4 separate regions of the Homo sapiens genome follow, and regions 1, 3 and 4 are each linked to region 2. The links come from fine-mapping of genetic effects on gene expression. A gene starts in region 2. Each other region holds a variant in brackets. All regions are shown on one strand. Distances are between the middles of the regions.

Region 1 (5,150 bases), 57 kb before region 2:
AAGGAATATTAACTGGGAGTGTGGCAGGCCAGGTCTCACTAATGCAGGCCTAAATAACAACTGTTTCAGCACGACTGAGTGGTGAAGTTAAATATTAAAAGCTGAAAGAGTGGCCGGGTGCAGTGGCTCACGCCTGTAATCCCAACACTTCAGGAGGCCGAGGTAGGCAGATCGCCTGAGGTCGGTCAGGAGTGGCAAAACCCCGTCTCTACTAAAGATACAAAAAATTAGCTAGGCATGGTGGTGGGCACCTATAATCCCAGCTACTTGGGAGGCTGTGGCAGGGAGAATCACTTGAACCCAGGAGGCGGAGGTTGCAGTGAGCTGAGATTGTGCCATTGCACTTCAGCCTGGGCAACAGAGCAAGACTGTCTAAAAAAAAAAAAAACTGGAAGAGCCAGTGCCCTTACACAAAGGCTGAAATGTAGCCAAAGCCTACCAAGAGTTCTGCCCAGGCCTTTCCCAGGCCTAAAAGCAAAATAACAAAGGAATTCTTAACAGGACCCGTTCAGAATTAAATAAGTTTTATTGGGGGTCTGAAGAAACCCCAGGCCTCCACAAACAAGTTTATTGGGGGTCTGAAGGAACTCCTTAAACCTCTGTGATTTAATAGGAGACAAGATAAGGGTAATCACCCCAGCACCTGGACCCATTTAGAGTAAGTAAATTTACTGAGGCTCCAGAGGAATGTCTTCAAGACTCAGACCTCAGCTACAGATTAAAAGAAGTTAATCACTTATGTCTTTAGATGAATGCAAACTTACACATAGACATATAGCTTAGAAGATAAATAAACTACGGAAAAACTTTGTAATTTTGAGTTGGTCTGGCGGTAATTTCCAGGCCTTCTACCTGTAACTGGTTACAGAAATAAAAACTCCCATCTCTCCCAATTCATCTGCATCTCGTTATTGGGCCGCGAGAGTAAGCAGCCTGACCCTCAGTTTGGTCTGGGAACAGGAGCAGAAAACTGGCACCAAAGAAAAAGTCTTGCAAAGTTCAAAACAACAAATGTTTCATTTCTATCCTGTTCACCTTGCAAAGCAATGATAAGAGTTGGGAGAAGGACAAAACCAAAACAAAATGTGCGGCCTCCCAAGGAATTCCAAGTATGCATAAAAATTGCAGGGCACGCAATCCCTCTAGATTTCACATACTCTAGGGATATTATAATTAATTTTCTTACAACTCCATCTAGAACACATTGAGAGGCTGGTTTCCGAGGATCCAGAGAAATTCCTGTCTCTGAAAGAAGTTCTTGAGAACCAGTATTTATTCCAGTTTCACGCTCAATACGAGACTGTAGTGAATGAAGACTTTCATCAGGTGGTAACAGAAAAGAAATTATCTTTGCAGAAGTCATATTTAGGATGTGTACTATCTGTATAAATAAGAAAAAAAGGTAAAGTTATTGATTATTTGTTACATAAAAGATTCGCTGCCAGATACTAAAAGGTGAATATGGGCAAAAGGCATTATTTCTACATTAAACAAGGCTCACTCATTCTCCAAAGTGAGATCTCCTTTTATAATTATAAAATGACATTCTGAAAACTGAACAATTTCCTTTTCTACAATAGATGTTAGTTCCAACAATAAAATTTCAAAGTTAAGAAATTTTCAAAATTAAGAAAAATCCCAATTTGAAAGAACAAGTTATTTATTTATTTATTTATTTATTTATTTTTTTTTTTTTTGAGACGGAGTCTCGCTCTGTCGCCCAGGCTGGAGTGCAGTGGCGGGATCTCGGCTCACTGCAAGCTCCGCCTCCCGGGTTCACGCCATTCTCCTGCCTCAGCCTCCCAAGTAGCTGGGACTACAGGCGCCCGCCACTACGCCCGGCTAATTTTTTGTATTTTTAGTAGAGACGGGGTTTCACCGTTTTAGCCGGGATGGTCTCGATCTCCTGACCTCGTGATCCGCCCGCCTCGGCCTCCCAAAGTGCTGGGATTACAGGCGTGAGCCACCGCGCCCGGCCTAAGTTATTTATTTTGAAAAAAACATTATCATAGACCGAAAAGGAAACATTCCAATTCATGAAGTGCCTAACAGAAGACAACCACAGGCATAAACCACTTTCACATAACATCCCCAATAATTAGATCTTTTAATCTCCATTTTAAACAGAGAAAGAAACCAGAGTTCTAAGTTAAATAACTTGTTAGGGATCACACAGCTAATAACTGGTAGAGCTTGGATCTTAACTCTTTTTGTGTCTGGCTACTTCATGCTGCCTTAAGAAATCATCTGATAGAAGAACTAGGTCTCTCTTTAAACAGGAAAAAGCATTGTTATGCGTGGTGAGTTACCTTTTTATAAGACAACCTAATCCCAGAGCAGCAACCTGCTTAAGGGCCCCAAATCAAGTAAGAACCGTTTTATCACTCTCACCTAAAGCCCCAGTAAAAGTAGCCTGATACATGCCAAGTGAGTGTGAGGCTGAGTCAGGTGGGGCTCTGTCCCCACCTGTCAGCGCGGACAGCCACAGAGTTGGACTTCAGTCTTTTGAAAAGAACATGATTTTAAATTCTCTTCCTTCCAGTATCCTTAGAAAAGCCATACGAAATTAATGCCTACATTCTCCATGCCTTACATTGACTAGTATATGCAAATGATTAAAATTCTCTCTGCTGAAAATCCTTACTACAAAGGTAAGGCATTAATCCAAGTCCACTATTATTTTTTTCCCTTTAAAACACAAATCTGAATTGATGTTTTCAAAGACACAAAACTATAGACAACAGTACAATAAGCCCCCTCCCAACCCTGTGAATGCCTCACCTAGTTTCAACCATCATTTACATAGAGCCTATCTTGTTTCATCTATCATA[A/G]CCCCCTCTCCTGATTTATTGCTTTATCTTTTACATATTTTATTTTGTGACAATTTAATTTGACATATAAAAATGTTATATATTTGAGTTATACAACTTGATGTTTTGATATACGTTGTGAAATTATCACATTTCAGCTAATTAATATATCTGTCACCTCTTCATAGTTGTCATTTTTGTACCTTTTTTTTCTTTTGCTGCCGTAATTTTTGGACCTTTTGATAAACATCTCTACATACACCCCCGCACCCGCATCCCTGCAGCCCCTGGCAACTATGATGCTATGGTCTGCTTCTATTAAATTTAACTATTATAGATTCCACATGTAAGTGAGATCACGCAGTATTTCTCTTTCTGTGACTTGCTTATTTTACTTAACATGTCCTCCAGGTTCATCCACATTGTCCTAAATGGCAGAATTTCCTTCTTTTTCTTAAGGTTGAATACTATTCCACTGTGTATATATACCACTTTTTCCCTATCCATTCATCTGTCAAAGGACATTTAGGCTATTTCCAGATCTTGACTATTGTGAATAATGCTGCAATGAACATGGGAGTGCAAATATCTCTTCACAAGCCTGCTTTAAAATCCTTTGGATATATACCAAGAAATGACATTGTTGAATCTTACAGTTCTATTTTTTTTTTTTTTCTTTTGAGACAGAGTCTTGCTGTGTCACGCAGGCTGATGTGCAGTGGCATGATCTCTCAGCTCACTACAACTTCCACCTCCTGAATTCAAGCAATTATCCTGCCTCAGCCTACGGAGTAGCTGGGATTACAGATGTGCACCACCATGCCCAGCTAATTTTTGTAATTTTAGTTGAGATGGGGTTTCTGCATGTTGCCCAGTCTGGTCTCGAACTCCTGGCCTCATGTGATCCACCTGTCTCAACCTCCCAAAGTGCTGGGATTACAGGCATGAGCCACCATGCCCGGCCAGTAGTTCTATTTTTAATTTTGAGGAACCTTTGTACTGTTTCCCACAATAGCTGTAATAATTTACATTCCCACCAACAGTGTACAAGGGATTTCTTTTCTCCCACATCCTCACTAACGCTTATCTTTTTTCTTTTGGATAATAGCCATCCCAACAGGTGGGGGGTGATATCTTAGTGTGGTTTTGATTTGCATCGCCCTGATGCTAAGAGTTGTTGAGCACCTTTTCATATGTTTGTTGACCATCTGAATTTCTTCTTTTGAGAAGTGTCTAATTCAGGTCCTTTGCACATTTTTAAATTGGGTTATTTACATTTTTGGTATTGAGTTGCATGAGTTTCTTATAAATTTAGGATATTAATTTCTTATTGGATGTATGGTATGCAAATATCTTTTCCCAATCCATGGGTTGGGTTGCTTTTTCGTTTTGTTGATTATTTTTTCTACTGTACACTTTTTAGTTTGAAGGCCCACTATTATTTCCACTTACAAATCCTAACACAGATGCCCAAATAAGTGGTGCTACAGAAATACTAAACTGAGGCTGGGCGTGGTGGCTCACGCCTGTAATCCCAGCACTTTGGGATTACAAGACAAGTAGATCACTTAAGGTCAGGAGTTCAAGACCAGCCTGGCCAACATGGTGAAACCTTGTCTCTACTAAAAACACAAAAATTAGCTGGGCTTGGTGGCACAACGCCTATAATCCCAGCTACTCAGAAGGCTGAGGCAGGAGAATCGCCTGAACCTGGGAGATCAAGGCTGCAGTGAGCCAAGATCGCGCCACTGCACTCCAGGCGACAGAGTGAGACTTTGTCTCAAAAAAAAAAAAAAAGAAAGAAGAAAAAGAAAAAAAAAGAAAAAAGAAAGGGATACTGAATATTCCCAACACAGAGAAATTATGTTTTAGCTGATGGATATGCTAATTACCCTAATCTGATCACTACACAGTGCATGTATTGAAACATCACTATTTACCCCATTAATTTGTATAATTATTTGTCAATTTAAAAAATTAGGCTGGGCGCGGTGGCTCACACCTGTAATCCCAGCCCTTTGGGAGGCCAAGACAGGTAGATCACTTGAGGACAGGAGTTTGAGAACATCCTGGCCAACATGGCAAAACCCTGTCTCTACTAAAAACACACAAAAAATTAGTTGGCCATGATGGCGCACACCTGTAATTCCAACTACGCGGGAGGCTGAGGCACGAGAGAATCACTTGAGTCTGGGAGGTGAAAGTTGCAGTGAGTGGAGATTGCACCATGGTACTCTAGCCTGGGTGATAGAACAAGACTCTTATCTCAAAAAAAAAAAAAAAAATTAAAAGCGTATTAACAATTTTGTTTGTTTGTTTTTGAGACAGAGTCTCTCTCTG
Region 2 (5,150 bases):
AAGGATATAAAGAAAATATTTTTGTACAGCTGTACAATGTGTTTTATGTCTTAGCTGTGTTATAACAAGAGTCAAAAAGTGTAAAAAAACTTAAAGTTTATAAAGTAAAAGTTACAGTAAACTAAGGTTTACTGTTGAAAATAATATTTTAATAAATTTAATATAGGTGAAGTGTACAGTATTCATAAAGTCTACAATACTGTAAAGTAATACATTCACTCACCTCTTACTAACTCACTCAGAGAAACTTTCAGTTCTGCAAACTCCATTCATGATAAGTGTCCTACACAGGTTGTGCCCTTTTTTTTTTTCCTGTATACAGTATTTTCTTTTTTTCTTTTTCTTTTTTTTTTTTTTTGAGACAGTCTCGCTCTGTCGCCCAGGCTGGAGTGCAGTGGTGCGATCTCGGCTCACTGCAACCTCTGCCTCCCAGGCTCAAGCCATTCTCCTGCCTCAACCTCTTGAGTAGCTGGGATTACAGGCGCCCGCTACCACACCCGGCTAATTTTTGTATGTTTAGTAGACACAGGGTTTCACCATGTTGGCCAGGCTGGTCTTGAACTTCTGACCTCAGGTGATCCACCCACCTCGGCCTCCCAAAGTGTTGGGATTACAGGCATAAGCCACCACACCCGGCCAGGTGTTTTCACTGTACCCTTTCTATATTTAAATACAAAAATGCTTACCATTGTGTTACAATTGCCTACAGTATTCAGTACAGTAACTTGACGTACAGCTATACCATTTAGCCTAGGTGTACAGGAAGCCATACCATCTAGGTCTCTGGAAGTACACTCAAAGATGTTCGCACAATGACGAAATCGCCTACCAACTCATTTCTCAGAACATAACCCTGCTGTTAAGCAATGGATTACTCTTATTTCCCAAGGCTCAATCCTAACATTCTCGGGAAGCCTTCTTGACTCCTATCATTAAGCCAAATACCCCTCTTATGCACTCTCCCAGATTCACGAATATTTTCTTCCCAAAAGTTACCACTATTGCAATTTTTTTTTTTTTTTTTTTGAGACAGGGTTTCAATCTGTCACCCAGCCTGGAGATCAGCAGCACGATCACAGCTCACTGCAGCATCGACCTCCCCAGGCTCAGGTGGTCCACCTGCTTCAGCCTCCCAATTAGCTGGGACCACCACGCCCGGCTAATTTTTTTTTTTTTCTGTATTTTTTGTAGAAACGGGGCCTTGCTATATTGCCCAGGCTGGTCTTGAATTCCTGGACTCAAGTGATTCTCTTGCCTTGGCCTCCGGAGTCGCTGGGATTATAGGCGTGAGCCACTGCGCCTGGCCCTATCACTATGGTAACTTTACATTTATCTGAATTCCTTTTTTTTTAGACGGAGTCTCACTCTGTTACCTAGGCTGGAGTGCAGAGGTGCAGTGTCGGCTCACTGTGCAACCTCCGCCTCCGGGTTCAAGCGATTCTCCTGCCTCAGCCTCCCAAGTAGCTGGGATTACAGGCACGCGCCACCACGCCTGGCTAATTTTTTTTTTTTGTATTAGTAGAGACGGGGTGTCACCACGTTGGCCAGGCTGGTCTCGAACTCCTGACCGCAAGTGATCCGCCCGCCTCAGCCTCCCAAAGTGCTAGGATTACAGGCGTGAGCCACCGCGCCCGGCCATTATTTGTATTGTTTTTTGTTTGTTTTGTTTTGTTTTGTTTTGTTTTGAGAGTCTCGTTCTGTCGCCCAGGCTGGAGTGCAGTGGCGCGATCTCGGCTCACAGCAACCTCCGCCTCCCGGGTTCAAGCGATTCTCCTGCCTCAGCCACCGCGCCCGGCCCATTATCTGGATTCTTTAGTACCTGTTCCTCTAGACTCTACGCTCCATTAAAGCAGGAACTCCATCTGTTGCAACACCTAGCACAGCGTCCGGCACACTGCAGTTCTTCAATAAATACTTGCTGCATGAAGCCCTCTCTTCACCACCACCCCCACCCCTCCTCCTCGCAAAAAAAAAAAAAAAAAAAAAATGCCCCAGGGAAGGGTCCCTATCTACTCTGTCCACCACTGCCCAGGGCCCATCAGTGGGCCCAATGGCTATTTGGCGAGTAAATAAATGGGGTCAGGAGAAACGAAGGGGAAAGGATGTGTCAGAGGCCAGGACTGCCCCCTAAGATGGAGGAGGCCTAACTCTGGGAGCTTCCGCCTCTCCGAACGAGCGTCGCCAAGAGAAACCCCCTCAGAAGCGAAAAGGGCCAGGAAAAGAGGTCAGCCCCGGCCAGGCAAAGACATCACCTAAGCTCCCCAGCAGCCCCGTGTCTCTCCGCCTTTTCCTTCTCCCTTCCCGTCATGGGAAAGACTCCCGCCCGTGTCGTCACCTACACACACGAAAGAGACACAGGGAGAGAGGCTTCCATTCACGGTCACTCACAGGCGCAGCGGTTTCTGTGCCATCTGTCCGAATAGTATGGGTTGCGACTGCCACCTAAAATTGGGAATGCGAATCCGCGCTCCCCGGAAAAATGCGACCGCGCAACAATCAGACGTCAGCGCCCTCCAGCCAATAACGGTTCACTTACTTACGGAGACCGCCGAGGGACAGAAGCCTCTCTCAGGTGTTTGCGCCTCAAGGAAGAATCAAGAGGGAAAGGGAGGAACGAAGGGAGAAAGAGAAAGTGACCGAAAGGATTCCAACTATGATTTTTTAAATTAAATTTCAGAGCACTTGAAGCGAATGAATGGCTAGGAAGTACAGAGCACAATGTCGGGTTCTAACCTAACCTAACCTAACCTAACCTAACCTAACCATATCGGTCTAGTGGGCAAGACAGACCCCCTCTATCCACGTTTTTTGTAAGTTTTTAACCTATCAAAAAGTTAAGAGGCCGGGCGTGGACGCTCACGCCTATAATCCCAGCACTTTGGAAGGCTGAGGCGGGCGGATCACTTGAGGTCGGGCGTTCAAGACCAGCCTGGGCAACATGGTGAAACCCCGTCTCTTCTAAAAATACAAAAATTAGCCGGGCATGGTGGAGAATTGCTTCAACCAGGGAGGCGGGGGTTGCAGTGAGTCAAGATCGCGCCATTGCACTCCAGCCTGGACAACAAGAGCGAAACTCCGTCTCAAATTAAAAAAAAAAAAGTTAAAAGAATAATGGCTATTACCTTGATTCAGTAAGTCTCAGCATGTTGGCAAATTTGCTTGTGTTCTCTTTCTCTCAAAGTGCCCAAGCCCTTCCATTCTCACTCAATCATTTGAAAGTAAAGTACAGGCCGGGCGCAGTGGCTCACGCCTGTAATCCCAGCACTTTGGGAGATCCAGACCATCCTGGCTAACACGGTGAAACCCCCTCTCTACTAAAAATACAAAAAATTAGCCGGGCGTGGTGGCACGCACCTGCAGTCCCAGTTACTCGGGAGGCTGAGGCAGGGGAATCGCTTGAACCCAGGAGGAGGAAGTTGCAGTGAGCCGAGATCGCGCCACTTCACTCCAGCCTGGGCGACAGAGCGAGACTCCGTGTCAAAAAATAAAATAAAATAAAGTGCGGACAACAGGAATACATCTCCATTTATCTCCTAAGATTAGGATATCCTCCTACATAACCGTAATACTATTAACACAGCTAAGAAAATTAACATTAATTATTCAATAATATTACCTAATATACATCCATATTTAAAGTTCTCCATATTTCCCTACAAACTGATTTTATATTTGGGGCTTGTTTTGATTCAGATGCAATCAAGTTTCACACTTGCATTTGGTTCTGTCTCTATTTTAATCTACAAAAGCCCTCCTACCTATTTGGTTTTAGTTTTTGTAATATTGACTTTTTTGAAGGGTTCAGGCCAAGTGGTAGGAAACAAGTGTGTAAGGAAATGGAAACAAGAGAGAGTTCCTGACGACTGCGGGGAAAGGAAGACTCATCAAGGGCATCTAAATAATTCAAAATTAATAAAACATAAGATTAAAGAAGAACTACAGGCCAGGCACAGTGGCTCATGCCTGTAATCCCAGCACTTTGGGAGGCTGAGGCGGGAGGTTCACTTGAGAACAGGAGTTCAAGGCCAACCTGGGCAACATAGCCAGACCTCGTCTCTACTACAAATTTAAAAAGAAAAAAAAAAAAGTTAGCTGGGCATGGTGGCCGTATGCCTGTACTCCCAGGTACTCCAGAGGCTGAGGTGGGGAGATCACTTGAGCCCAGGAGATGGAGGCTTCAGCGAGCTATTACCTTGCCACTGCACTCCAGCCTGGGTGACACAGCAAGCCCTGTCTCAATAACCAAACAAAACTACAAAGTTCTGGCTTTTCCCACAGCCTACAAGCCTTCTTTTTTGTTTGTTTCTTGCCTCATAACTGGTGGCTCTGCTTTGCTGGCACATAAGCATGCATTTTTTCCTACTCTTTGGATAATACAGCACTGCCCAGGAGTAGCACTCAAGACTGAATCTTGAAGAAGAGTAGAAGTTTGCCAAACATGAGCAGGTAATAATTCCCAGAAGAGGATACAAAAGTAAGACATAAAAACTCATCGTATTGAAAAATCAAAAGACTCCACGAAAAAGACTGTTAGAAATAATAAACGAATTCAGTAAAAGTTTCAGGATACCAAATCAACATACAAAAATCAGTAGCATTTATATGCACCAACAGTAAACAATCTGAAAAAGAAATCAAAAAAGCAATCTCATTTACAACAGCTACAAAGAATATAAACTACGTAGGAATCAATTTAACTAAAGAAATGAAAGATCTATACAAGGAAAACTATACAATACTGATGAAAGAGGACACACACACAAAAAGGAAAGATATTCCACGCTTATGGATTAGAAGAATTAGGCGGGCAGATCACGAGGTCAGGAGATCGAGACCTTCCTGGCTAACACGGTGAAACCCCGTCTCTCCTAAAAATACAAAAAAATTAGCCAGGCGTGGTAGCGGGCGCCTGTAGTCCCAGGTACTCGGAAGGCTGAGGCAGCAGAATGGCATGAACCCGCGAGGCAGAGCTTGCAGTGAGCGGAGATCCAGCCACTGCACTCCAGCCTCTAGCCTGGGCAACAGAGCGAGACTCCGTCTCAAAAAAAAAAAAAAGAAAGAAAGAAAAAAGACAACACTACCTAAAGCAATTTACAGATTCAGTCCAATCCCCATCAAAATACAAATGGCATTCTCTAGATAGAGCAAGG
Region 3 (5,150 bases), 93 kb before region 2:
AGCCAAAAATAGCTTATTAAAATCAGTTAGAAAAACCATTAACTACAAAAATGAGCAAAACCAACAATTTATAAATGAAATAAAAACAGCTAATAACCTAGGGTATTCAACTTCAATAATTAACACAAAATAACAGACTAATTTTCTCCAAAAGGATTAAGAGAGAAAGGGAAAGCTTGCATCTGCTAATTATTTGGGTACAATCATGCAATCAAATGTGTAAGAACTACAGCTTACCAACACTGCTAATGAGGGGGGGAGCTGCTAAAATTTTTCTAAAAGGTGATTCGGTAGTATGTATCAATAAGCCCCCAAACAGGGCATACACTTTGATCATCAATCCCACTTCAAGAATTTATTGTAAGAGAGGGATTTAAAAAGATGTACAGAATATATAAGCTTGGTCATTCCAACATGCATACAGTAGTAAAAAATTTGAAACCATAGAGATTCACTAAATATAACCATTAAAAGTAATGATTTACCAAACCTATATTTTTGTTTTGGAAAGATGTTCATAGACAATGTTAGTGAAAAAAGCAAGTATGGTATGATTCTGCTTTAGTTGAGCATGTATGCATTTATATCTACAAACATTTGTTCATATACATTAAGAATAGTCGAGAAAGATATAACAAATGATGTTATCCCTGCATAATAAGATTACTGGTGAATTTCATTTTATTCTTCATCATTTTCCTAGTATCTAACTTTTTTCTACAACATAAATAACGTGTGTGTATAAAAATTCCAAATTTATACAGAACAAATCAGTAAGAAAGAAAACAATCCAACAGAAAAATGGGCAAAAGATATGAATAGGCAATCAGCAGAAGACAGTATAAATGACCAATAAATGTATCAAAAGATGTTCAACCTCATTAACAACCAAAGGAATGCAAATCAAAGGGAGATATAATTGCCCACCCATCCATATGGTAACAATCAGTATGTCTGATTGCTTCCAATGTTGGTGAGTTCATGGGTCACAATTATTTGCACATATTGCTGTTAAGAATGTACATTTGTACAGTCAGTTTGAAAGATAATTTGTACATACAAGAACATGTGTCATGAATGTTCATTACACTATTGTTTAATAGCAAAAAACTGGGAACAGAAAAATGGCTAAGTAATATAAGGCAAGGAATTCTAAACAACAGTTGAATGAGCTAGATCTCTGAGTAACACCCTGGGCAGAATCTAAGAGCTGACCTTCACATTCACTATCTTTAAAACTAAAAAGCTACTCCAGCTACAACTGACTTGAACAACTCAGAGGATTTTACAAAGTTACCTCTGGACATTTCAAACGACCCCTTAACTCTGGTGGCTCACCCTCAAGCGCCTGAGATAATGACATTGCATGAATGAGGCCATGAGGAAAACCCCACCTATCTTTCAGTCTTGTTTTTGAGAAGCACGAACACATACAATCACAGTGAGCGCACACTCTCAGTAGCAGTGGTGCTGAGTGTAAAGAATTGAGAGACATGTGATAAGCTTTAGTTGCAGTAATGTTCATCACAACAATCAACAATCAACTGGTCTCCTAGAGCTCCTGAGAAAGGACACTAGAGAAGCCTCAATATAACTTCTTAGGTCATCTGGATCCAGAGCAGTGGCTTTCGAATGTTACTGACAGTGGACACAGTAAGAAACACATTTTGCACTGACGTCCAATATAAACACCTACCCCGCCACACTGTGAAACACAAGTGTCACAGAATATTTAAACTTATTACATACCATTTCTTTTCCTATTCTATTCCATTTTATTTAAAATGCTGTTCATGACTCACTAAAGTTGATTTTACAACCCACAATCTGGAAAACACAGTGACCCAAAAAAAAGCAGGGGTAAAACCTCTCACCATTCTATTTCCCAACGTCACCATCACCACTACCACTAAATTCACCTGCTACCTTGTTTTTACTAGGGCTGTCCCTCCCACTTGAAATACCTTTCTCATTCTTCCCCCATTTAAATCCAATTAATTTTTCCAAACCTACTTAAAATCTCAACTCAATCACAGCCCTCTCCTAGACACACTGTCTTCCAATGTTCTCTTACTCTTACAGCAATAATCATTCAATAGATTCATCTGTCAATTAATACTTTGTGATAACTATTTTGTCCAGGATTGTTCAAATTTTACACTTGAACTCCCTTTTCATAATCTTACTGAGGGCAGGGATTATGCTTACACTGATTTATAACCATTACTGTATCTTAATGCTTCATACATGGCAGAAATATGAATTTTACTTCCTTGTAAGAGCCTCAGCTTATCAGTTCCCTCTAGGAGTTCACAAATGTCACCCATAGTAAGCTACAAGAGTATTTTATTTTGGCAGAGATCTAAAGTCAAATTGAGAAAGGTATTCTATAAATCACCATAGCATCTCAAATAATTGCTGAATAAAACAATCCAATGAAAGGAGGAACAAACTCAAAGCTCTCAAAATCCCCAGAGAACTTCCCTAGGAAAAGAACTTACCTGTATAGTGAGACCTGGGGCCATGAGGTTTAAGTCTTTCTGCAGAGCTTGCTTCAGGTTTTCATCTATTTGATCTGTTTTTTAAGCCAAGAACAACAGATCTCATGATAGTCAATTTTTTTTACATTGTATTCATAATGAAACAAAACTAATCATTATTAGACCTAAAGTTTCCACAGTACTATTCTTTTACAGAGCTTAAACTGCCTTTTCTTCCCTTTTGTGTGGGAAAAAAATTGCAAGGAATTATCTAATAAAGAAATTAAGGAA[C/T]GAAGATGACAAGCAGATAGTCTGTTTATCCAATAAGTTTACCCACTAAATGTATTACTTAACTATGGATAAGCTTTTTTACTGGGTAACTTATTAGACTTATTTACTGGATAAACAACTACTGGGTAAAATATGTTGATCTAATAAATGGAGAATCTGGATCTCTAGTATCTTAATTCAGGGCTCTTACTCAATATGTATCCTCATTCTCAAAGAAAAACAAATTTCTATGTTCAGTAAATCTTTACTCAAATTCCCAAATAACTAAACTTCATTTCCATGGATCTCAGCCTCACTGTTATTTTGGATTTAAAGAGAGAGAGAGAGAGAGACAGAGAGAGAAGCTCATAGAAAAGTATTTGAAATATACACAGCATGAACACTTGGGCTTGTAACTATGCACTTTCTATTCACCTCAATGGTACTTTCGCTATTTAAATGACTGGTGGTGAGACAAAGCAGGACCCATCAGTTTCCTCACATGCCACTTCAGTGGTTGACAATCACCAAAGAGGACTCAATTGGTAGATTTTAAATTGATTACTCTTGCTTATTCCTTCATCTTAGAAATTCACTAAAAATTTCAGGAGGGAAAAGTGAGCTACCAACAGCAACAACTCATTCCCTGGTCAGAACTTCCACTATCATAAATGAAAAGTAAGTTGTACAGAAGTGAGTTAAGAAAGCAGGGCTGATACTGCAATCCTTAGAAAGGCCTTTTGTAAACTCGTCCTTGGTTGGCACCTAGGAACTTGGATTTGTAGAAGGGTCCCACTATCCCCAGAGCTAATACAATTGACTTGCTGTGAACTGTTTATACAATGTGGCTTATGCCAAACACCTGCATTCCTTCCAGGAGTCTGGAATTTTTATGTGGTAGGCAGAGGGTGCCTACATAATCAGCCCCCAGTGAAAACCCTGGGCAATGAGTCTCCAATGAGCTTCCCTAGTAGACAACATTTCACATGTGTTGTCACAGCTTGTTGCTGTGGGAATTAGGCACATGTTTGACTCTTGGAAGCCTGCACCTGCTTTCCTCTGCATTTTGCTGGTGTGCCTTTGCCTCTCGCTGATTTTGCTTTGTACCCTTTGGCTGTAATAAATCTTAGCTGTGAACACAACTATGTGCTGAGTCCTGTCAGTCTCCTACCAAATCATCAAAAATGGGAGCCTCAAGACACAGGTTTCTAAATTTTTCAAATTATCTATTAAAACATCAACAAAGCTAATTTTCACTAAGTTATTACAGTAAAAACAGAATACAGTCTGAGTAGTTTTTCCAATCTCTAACAAGTTATATAAAAAATTTTAAACTTAAGATAAAAAATATTTTAAAGACAATTGCTCTATGATAAATTCAGAAGAAATGCTTAAATAGCACTAAGGTTTACCAATATAACCTCAATAAGTAAGCTGAACAAAGATTTCCAATTGGCTATTTACATACATAAGAATTAAGACACTTACCAAACAATTCAATGTAAACTTCCTGAAGTGTGTGGGCACTGCAGAACTGGTTCAGCTCATGGTGGATTTTATTGAAGATTAAGGTCTTGTCATAATCTGCAGTATAGTTCCTCACGATATCAAACACTGAAGGAGAGGTACAACCCATGTTTGTTTTACCCAACAATGACACAGGTACCTTCAAATTCAGCCAGGGTAAAAGTCAGGGTGATATATTACACATGAGGAAAAGTGCCAACAAAATAGTGAAACCAAAAACCACAACTAACAAATCTTGATGTGTTGCTTGTGCTCAATTTTCCAAATACCCTTGCATTTGTAATACTAATGCCAAACACCTGCTGGTTAGCCCATCAAACAGGGGCTAACTTTAAAGTCCACACTAAAGTATCCATTATTTTGGAGGTAATAAGGAACTATCAAAGGTTTCAAGCAAGGGCATGACAGTCAGATTTACGCTTTGGCCAGCAGTGTGAAGATGAACTGAGAAGCATAAAGATCAGAGGCAGGGAAAGCATAAGGCAATTACTGCAAAAGTTTAGCTAAGAGGTAAAGAGAGACTAGGCAAACTGAGGAACAGTAGAAATAAAAGAAGAAAGCAGTTGCAAAAGACCGTTTTTAAAAAGGCAATTTTTTAAAGTTGTTAAAACATTAACTGAGCTGGGCTTTATATCAGGTAATTTACATAAATTAGCACTGAATTCTCCTAAATTTGCATATTAGGAAACTAAGAAACAGAGAATTTTAGAAATGCCCAAAAGGTACATACTAGACCACGTCAGAACCTGTTCTTTATCTACAAAAACATGCTGCTTTCTACTTCTGTCTTCAGATCCAAGAATTTGCTCCACTGGCCTTCCCATGTGGGATATTAGATGCAACTGGATTTCAAATCCGACTGGGCGCGGTGGC
Region 4 (5,147 bases), 27 kb before region 2:
TTTTCAGTTTTTATCACCCTCAACCACAAAAAGATACAACTTCTGATTTCAAAATGACCACTTTCGGCTGGGATAGTGGCTCACGCTTGTAATCCCAAAACTTTGAGAGGCCGAGGCAGGTGGACCGCCTGAGGTCAGAAGTTCCAGACTAGGCTGACCAATATGGTGAAACCTCATTTCTACTAAAAATACAAAAATTAGCCAGGCCTGTGATGGCATGTGCCTGTAGTCCCAGCTACTCGGGAGGCTGAGACAGGAGAATTGCTTGAACCCGGGAGGCAGAGGTTGCAGTGAGCCGAGATCGCGCCACTACACTCCAGCCTGGGTGACAGAGCGAGACTCCGTCTCCAAAAAAAAAAAAAAAAAAAAAATGACCCCTTTCTGCCTCCCCAGTAACTTTCATTCCCACCCCCACCCCCGAATATACTCCTTGGGCTCACAAAAAAAGCTAAGATGGCATGATTAGCATCTAATGTTCCTAAGCCTTAAGCTGCTGACTAAATTCTACAAAACAAAAGCAAACATACAACCTAATGGGGTAGAAGGAAAGTAAAACCTCAAACTCAGATGCATCCAAAGAGGCAGAAAAGAATGATTTCCAACAATGGATGTCAGCCTTTAATGGCAACTAAAAATATTTCTGTAAAAACCAAAACATGCAAGAATGGTCTACCACTCAGATATTCTCTGATGGGAAGATGCCATGAGTGAGCACAGAAGGGCCCAATGAGTACCAGTACAGGCAAATATAGATACGTTAGAAAACAATTATCCAGACCGGGTGCGTTGGCTCATGACTGTAATCCCAGCACTTTGGGAGGCCAAGGCAAATGGATCGCGAGGTCAGGAGTTCAAGACCAGCCTGGCCAACAAGGTGAAACCCCGTCTCTACTAAAAATACAAAAATTAGCTGGGCATGGTGGCACGTGCCTATAATCCCAGCTACTTGGGAGACTGAAGCAGGTGAATTGCTTGAACCTGGAAGGCGGAGGTTACAGTGAGCCGAGATCGTGCCACTGCACTCCAGCCTGGGCGACAGAACAAGACTGTCTCAGGAAAAAAAATAAAAAATTATTCCAACTATGCTCTTAGTGTGGTGGGCTCAAAGTTAAGGCTGAAGGAAGGAATCACTTCTCATCTATAATAAGAAAGTCCAACAGAATGACAGGATATGTATTGGAAAGATACTAAAGCATGATTGTCCTTGATTTGTTTGGCAGAGAGGACTGAGCATATTGACAAAGTTAATTTTCCAGATGACTAAAGTTGATGAAAACCTCACAGGCACTAAAAACTTTTTTTTATTTGTATAATAACCACTTTATATTGTATTTGTTTAAAAGGTTACTCTAGAAGCCTGAGTCGTCTAGCTATTTTTGTCAGAAGGTCACTGCCATAAACATCAGCTTCTCTATTATGATGTGCATTCTTTAGGTAATGATGTCTAAACTAAAGAGCTCCTCTGCACCATCTCTAATCCTGTACTTGCAATTTTTGTGAATAGTTTCACGCTTGCCTAATCTCCTCTCTCTTTCAAACTCTCACCTTCTAATCTGTTCTATACTAGAATTATCTCTAACCATGTGTAAATAGGACCTGGATAAATGGTTCTCCCCGTAAGTAAAATGCATTGATTTTGCAATAATTATTTTACACTCTCAGCAGCCCTTCCCCCTTTTTACTAATCTGTGGCTATGGACCATCAGCACAATTCTATGTACTACCTTTGAGGAAGGCACGACAAAGAGAAAGCCAGGGAAAAAATTTAAAAAACAAAAAAAGGCAATCAAAAAGAATAATTGCAGGGAGGAGATCCCAAACTCTTCCACAGACACCCAAAGGTCATTACAGGTTTGTAAGAGGTTTCTACCTAAGGACAGTGTAGACTCTAGGCTGAAATACTCATGTGGCCTACTTGGGATGTTGGGTTGGGCCACAAACAAGACCTTTTTCCCCTCTAGTTTCAGGCCTAGATGAGAAGAAAACAGGTTTCCTTGATTGTTGCCCAGGCCCACACCCTGAGTTAGAGTAACCTGGACAATAGAAAGATGAATGGAAAAGAAAAGTCACTTCTCACTGAGGCCTAGAGCAGCACTGAGCTATGTCACACATTCCAAATCTCTTATCTCCTGCGTGTGATCTTGAACCTATTGAAGCTTCCCAAACAGAAGGCAATTCAAAGCCTAACTTACTATACAAATTGTGTGGGAGAGAAAAATAGCATAAACTAATCCAAAGACGAAAAAAGATGCAAAAGAGATCATCCAAAAAGGGCACTGCTATAAAAGCTAGAGCTTCTCAAGTTTGCTCTTATTCCACTGAAGACTTCATCCACAGGTTCTATGGCTCAGTTGTGTCAC[C/T]GGCCTTGACTTCATTAGTGCTCCCCCTAGAGACAGGAGTGTGCCACTAATTAAGCCTTTTTTTTTTTTTTTTTTTTTTTTTTTTGTGACAGAGTCTTGCTCTGTCCCCCAGGCTGGAGTGCAGTGGCGCGATCTTGGCCTGCAACCTCCACCTCCCAGGTTCAAGCAATTCTCTGCCTCAGCCTCCTGAGTAGCTGGGATTGCAGGCGCCCGCCACCACGCCCAGCTAATTTTTGTATTTTCAGTAGAGACAGGGTTTCACCTTCTTGGCCAGGCTGGTCTTGAACTCCTGACCTCGTGATCCACCTGCCTCAGCTTCCCAAAGTGCTGGGATTACAGCCGTGAGCAGGCGTGAGCCACTGCACCCGGCCAAGACATTTTTTAAAATGTAAAAGACTGAGACTCTTCAGGTGGAAACAACACAGGCAGAAGTGTAACTCCTTAAAGTGTAAGATGAAATTGAGACTCTAGTCAGTCTACAGGAAGGAAGACACAAAAAACGGTCCTCAGATTGTTAGGATAAGTTGAAAGGATCAACCCCAGAAACCAAAAGTAGAACAAATCAATGAGAAATGGATGAAGGCACCTGTCTTCAGAAGCACTACACACTTAAGGAATTGTCTTAGTCCATCTTGTGTTGCTATAATAGAATACCACAGACTATAATTTATTTGAATAGAAATCTATTTGGCTTGTGGTTCTGTAGACTGGGAAGTCGAAGTGCATAGCACTGGCACCTGGCAATGGCCTTCGTGCTGCATCATCCCATGGCAGAAGGGCAAGTGAGGGTGAGAGTAAAGAAGCAAAAGGGGACCTGAACTCACTTTAACAAAGCCACTCTCATGATAACCCACTACTGTGATAACATTAATCCATTCATGAAGGCAGAGTCCTTATGACCAAATCACCTCTTATTAGGCCCCACCTCCCAAAACTGTCACAAAACAAAAATGACTTATAAATATTTTCCTCAGGAATCTTGGGGAACATCCAATTCTAGTCACTGGTGACTATAGTGTTAAAAATTAAGTTTTCTTCATTCTAAATGAATGAAAAAGAACAATGGTCTACAGAAAACCCAGGGAAATCAGAGTCAAACACTGGTATTATTTAATGTCTAATCCAGCCCTACCCAAGCAAAAGTATCTGGGGAAATGTGAAATAGAATGACTTTCCCATGAGACACACACATTCAAGCTTTCCACCACCTGAATAAAATCATACTCAAGACCATCCCGTTCTCATAGTCTGATTCAATGCTTACCAAACAACCATATCATCATCATCTTGGGTTCCTAGATACTCACACCAGGAGTGTGAATATGGGTATTCCTGTCATTAGTAAGCTACACCCTCCACTACTAAGCAAAACTGAAATTTTATCTTTGATGTGATCAGTTAGTGTGAATCAGCTTCCAGCATTACATAATTCCAGATAAAAATTCATAGGCCGGGGGTGGTGGCTCACGCCTGTAATCCCAGCACTTTGGGAGGCTGAGGCGGGCAGATCACCTGAGGTCGGGAGTTTGAGACCAGCCTGGCCAGCAGGGTGAAACCCTGTCTCTACTAAAAATATAAAAATTAGCCAGATGTGATGGCAGGTGCCTGTAATCCCAGCTACTTGGGAAGCTTAGGCAGGAGAATCACTTGAACCCGGGAGGCAGAGGTTGCAGTGAACTGAGATCACGCCATTGCACTCCAACCTGGGCAACAGAGCGAGACTCCATCTCAAAAAAAAAAAAAAAAAAATTTCATAAGGCTCTAGTTTCTGAATCTGAAGCTATAAAAAGAATATCAACATTTTTAACCCAATACAGGTATATAAGCAACAGAAGACTGCCTTTTTAGGACAAAGAAAATCACTTTAAATGGTAATTAGCAAAAGGAACTCATCACTCTCAATTAGACGGGCTAAAAAATACAGAGAGTCCAAGAAGTATATAAAAGCATCACCCCTAGAGAACCATACCTATTTATGAGAGAGGAAAAGAGAGCTATCTTGTAAAACTGGCTATTGCTATAACAAATGTTGACAGGGATGTGGAAAAGCAGAAACCTTCATACACTGCTGGTGGGAATATAAGATGGTGCAGTCATTTTGGAAAACAGTTTAGCAGTTTCTTAAAAGTTAAACATAAATTTACTATATAACCTAGCAAATCCATTCCTAGGTCTATCCAAAATATAGACCATTCCTAGGTCTATATCCACACAAAGACTTGCATGCAGATATTTTATGGGAGCATTATTTCTAATAGCCATAAAGTAGAAACAACCCAAACGTCCATCAGCTGATGAACAGATATAGACGAAATGTGGTACATCTATACACTGGAATATGATTTGGCAATAAAAAGGAATGAAATACTGATACATGCTGCAACATGGATGAACCTCAAGAATATTATGCTAAGTAAAAGAAGCTAGACACAAAAGACCACATGTTGTATGATTCCATTTATAAGAAATGTCCAAAAATGGCAAACTATGGAGATAGTAAGTAGACTAGTTGCTGCCTGAGGCTAAAGTTGGGAACAGGGATTAACTGTAAATGGGCATAAGAGATCTTACTGCAATGATAAAAATGTTCTAAAACTATACCACGTGATGGTGGCATAACTCAGTAACCTTACGAAAATCACCGAATCATACACTTAAACATGGGTAAATGTTATATGTAGATTATGCCTCAATAAAGTTAATAAAAAACAAATAGGCATCTCCTTCTCTATAAAGTCCAAGGAAGTAACTCACATGTGTGCCGATGTTGACCACCAAATGTTTTTC

Direction of the effects. Alleles are on the strand shown, and positions count from the first base shown. SD is a standard deviation of normalised expression in the study named.
With allele G in place of A in region 1, the expression in Th1/17 cells of the gene that starts at base 2,456 in region 2 is higher (moderate effect, 0.67 SD a copy in Schmiedel 2018).
As copies of C replace T in region 3, the expression in monocytes of the gene that starts at base 2,456 in region 2 goes down (large effect, 1.0 SD a copy in BLUEPRINT).
As copies of C replace T in region 4, the expression in hippocampus of the gene that starts at base 2,456 in region 2 goes down (moderate effect, 0.74 SD a copy in GTEx).

Evidence for each region. PIP is the estimated chance that this variant, and not a neighbour inherited with it, causes the effect. A credible set is the group of variants that fine-mapping cannot tell apart.
Region 1: its variant is the best candidate, but not a certain one, in a credible set for the expression of CWF19L1 in Th1/17 cells (Schmiedel 2018, PIP 0.81).
Region 3: its variant is the best candidate, but not a certain one, in a credible set for the expression of CWF19L1 in monocytes (BLUEPRINT, PIP 0.72).
Region 4: its variant is the best candidate, but not a certain one, in a credible set for the expression of CWF19L1 in hippocampus (GTEx, PIP 0.61).

The regions. Positions count from the first base shown.
Region 1 is chr10:100,208,409-100,213,558 of GRCh38, forward strand. CHUK (component of inhibitor of nuclear factor kappa B kinase complex) reads right to left here. Exons shown (of 21, transcript NM_001278.5): 10 at 1,187-1,381. Among named protein-coding and RNA genes, the nearest start is that of CHUK, 19 kb to the right of the region's middle. The variant A/G (reference allele first, on the strand shown) is at 2,832.
Region 2 is chr10:100,265,183-100,270,332 of GRCh38, forward strand. CWF19L1 (CWF19 like cell cycle control factor 1) reads right to left here and starts at 2,456. Exons shown (of 14, transcript NM_018294.6): 1 at 2,389-2,456. The coding sequence starts at 2,411. RefSeq lists an enhancer at 187-436.
Region 3 is chr10:100,171,707-100,176,856 of GRCh38, forward strand. It overlaps ERLIN1 (ER lipid raft associated 1), which reads right to left. Exons shown (of 11, transcript NM_006459.4): 5 at 4,239-4,364; 6 at 2,502-2,575. Among named protein-coding and RNA genes, the nearest start is that of ERLIN1, 12 kb to the right of the region's middle. RefSeq lists an enhancer at 3,450-3,519. The variant C/T (reference allele first, on the strand shown) is at 2,772.
Region 4 is chr10:100,238,584-100,243,730 of GRCh38, forward strand. CWF19L1 (CWF19 like cell cycle control factor 1) reads right to left here. Exons shown (of 14, transcript NM_018294.6): 10 at 5,115-5,147. Among named protein-coding and RNA genes, the nearest start is that of SNORA12, 3.9 kb to the left of the region's middle. The variant C/T (reference allele first, on the strand shown) is at 2,361.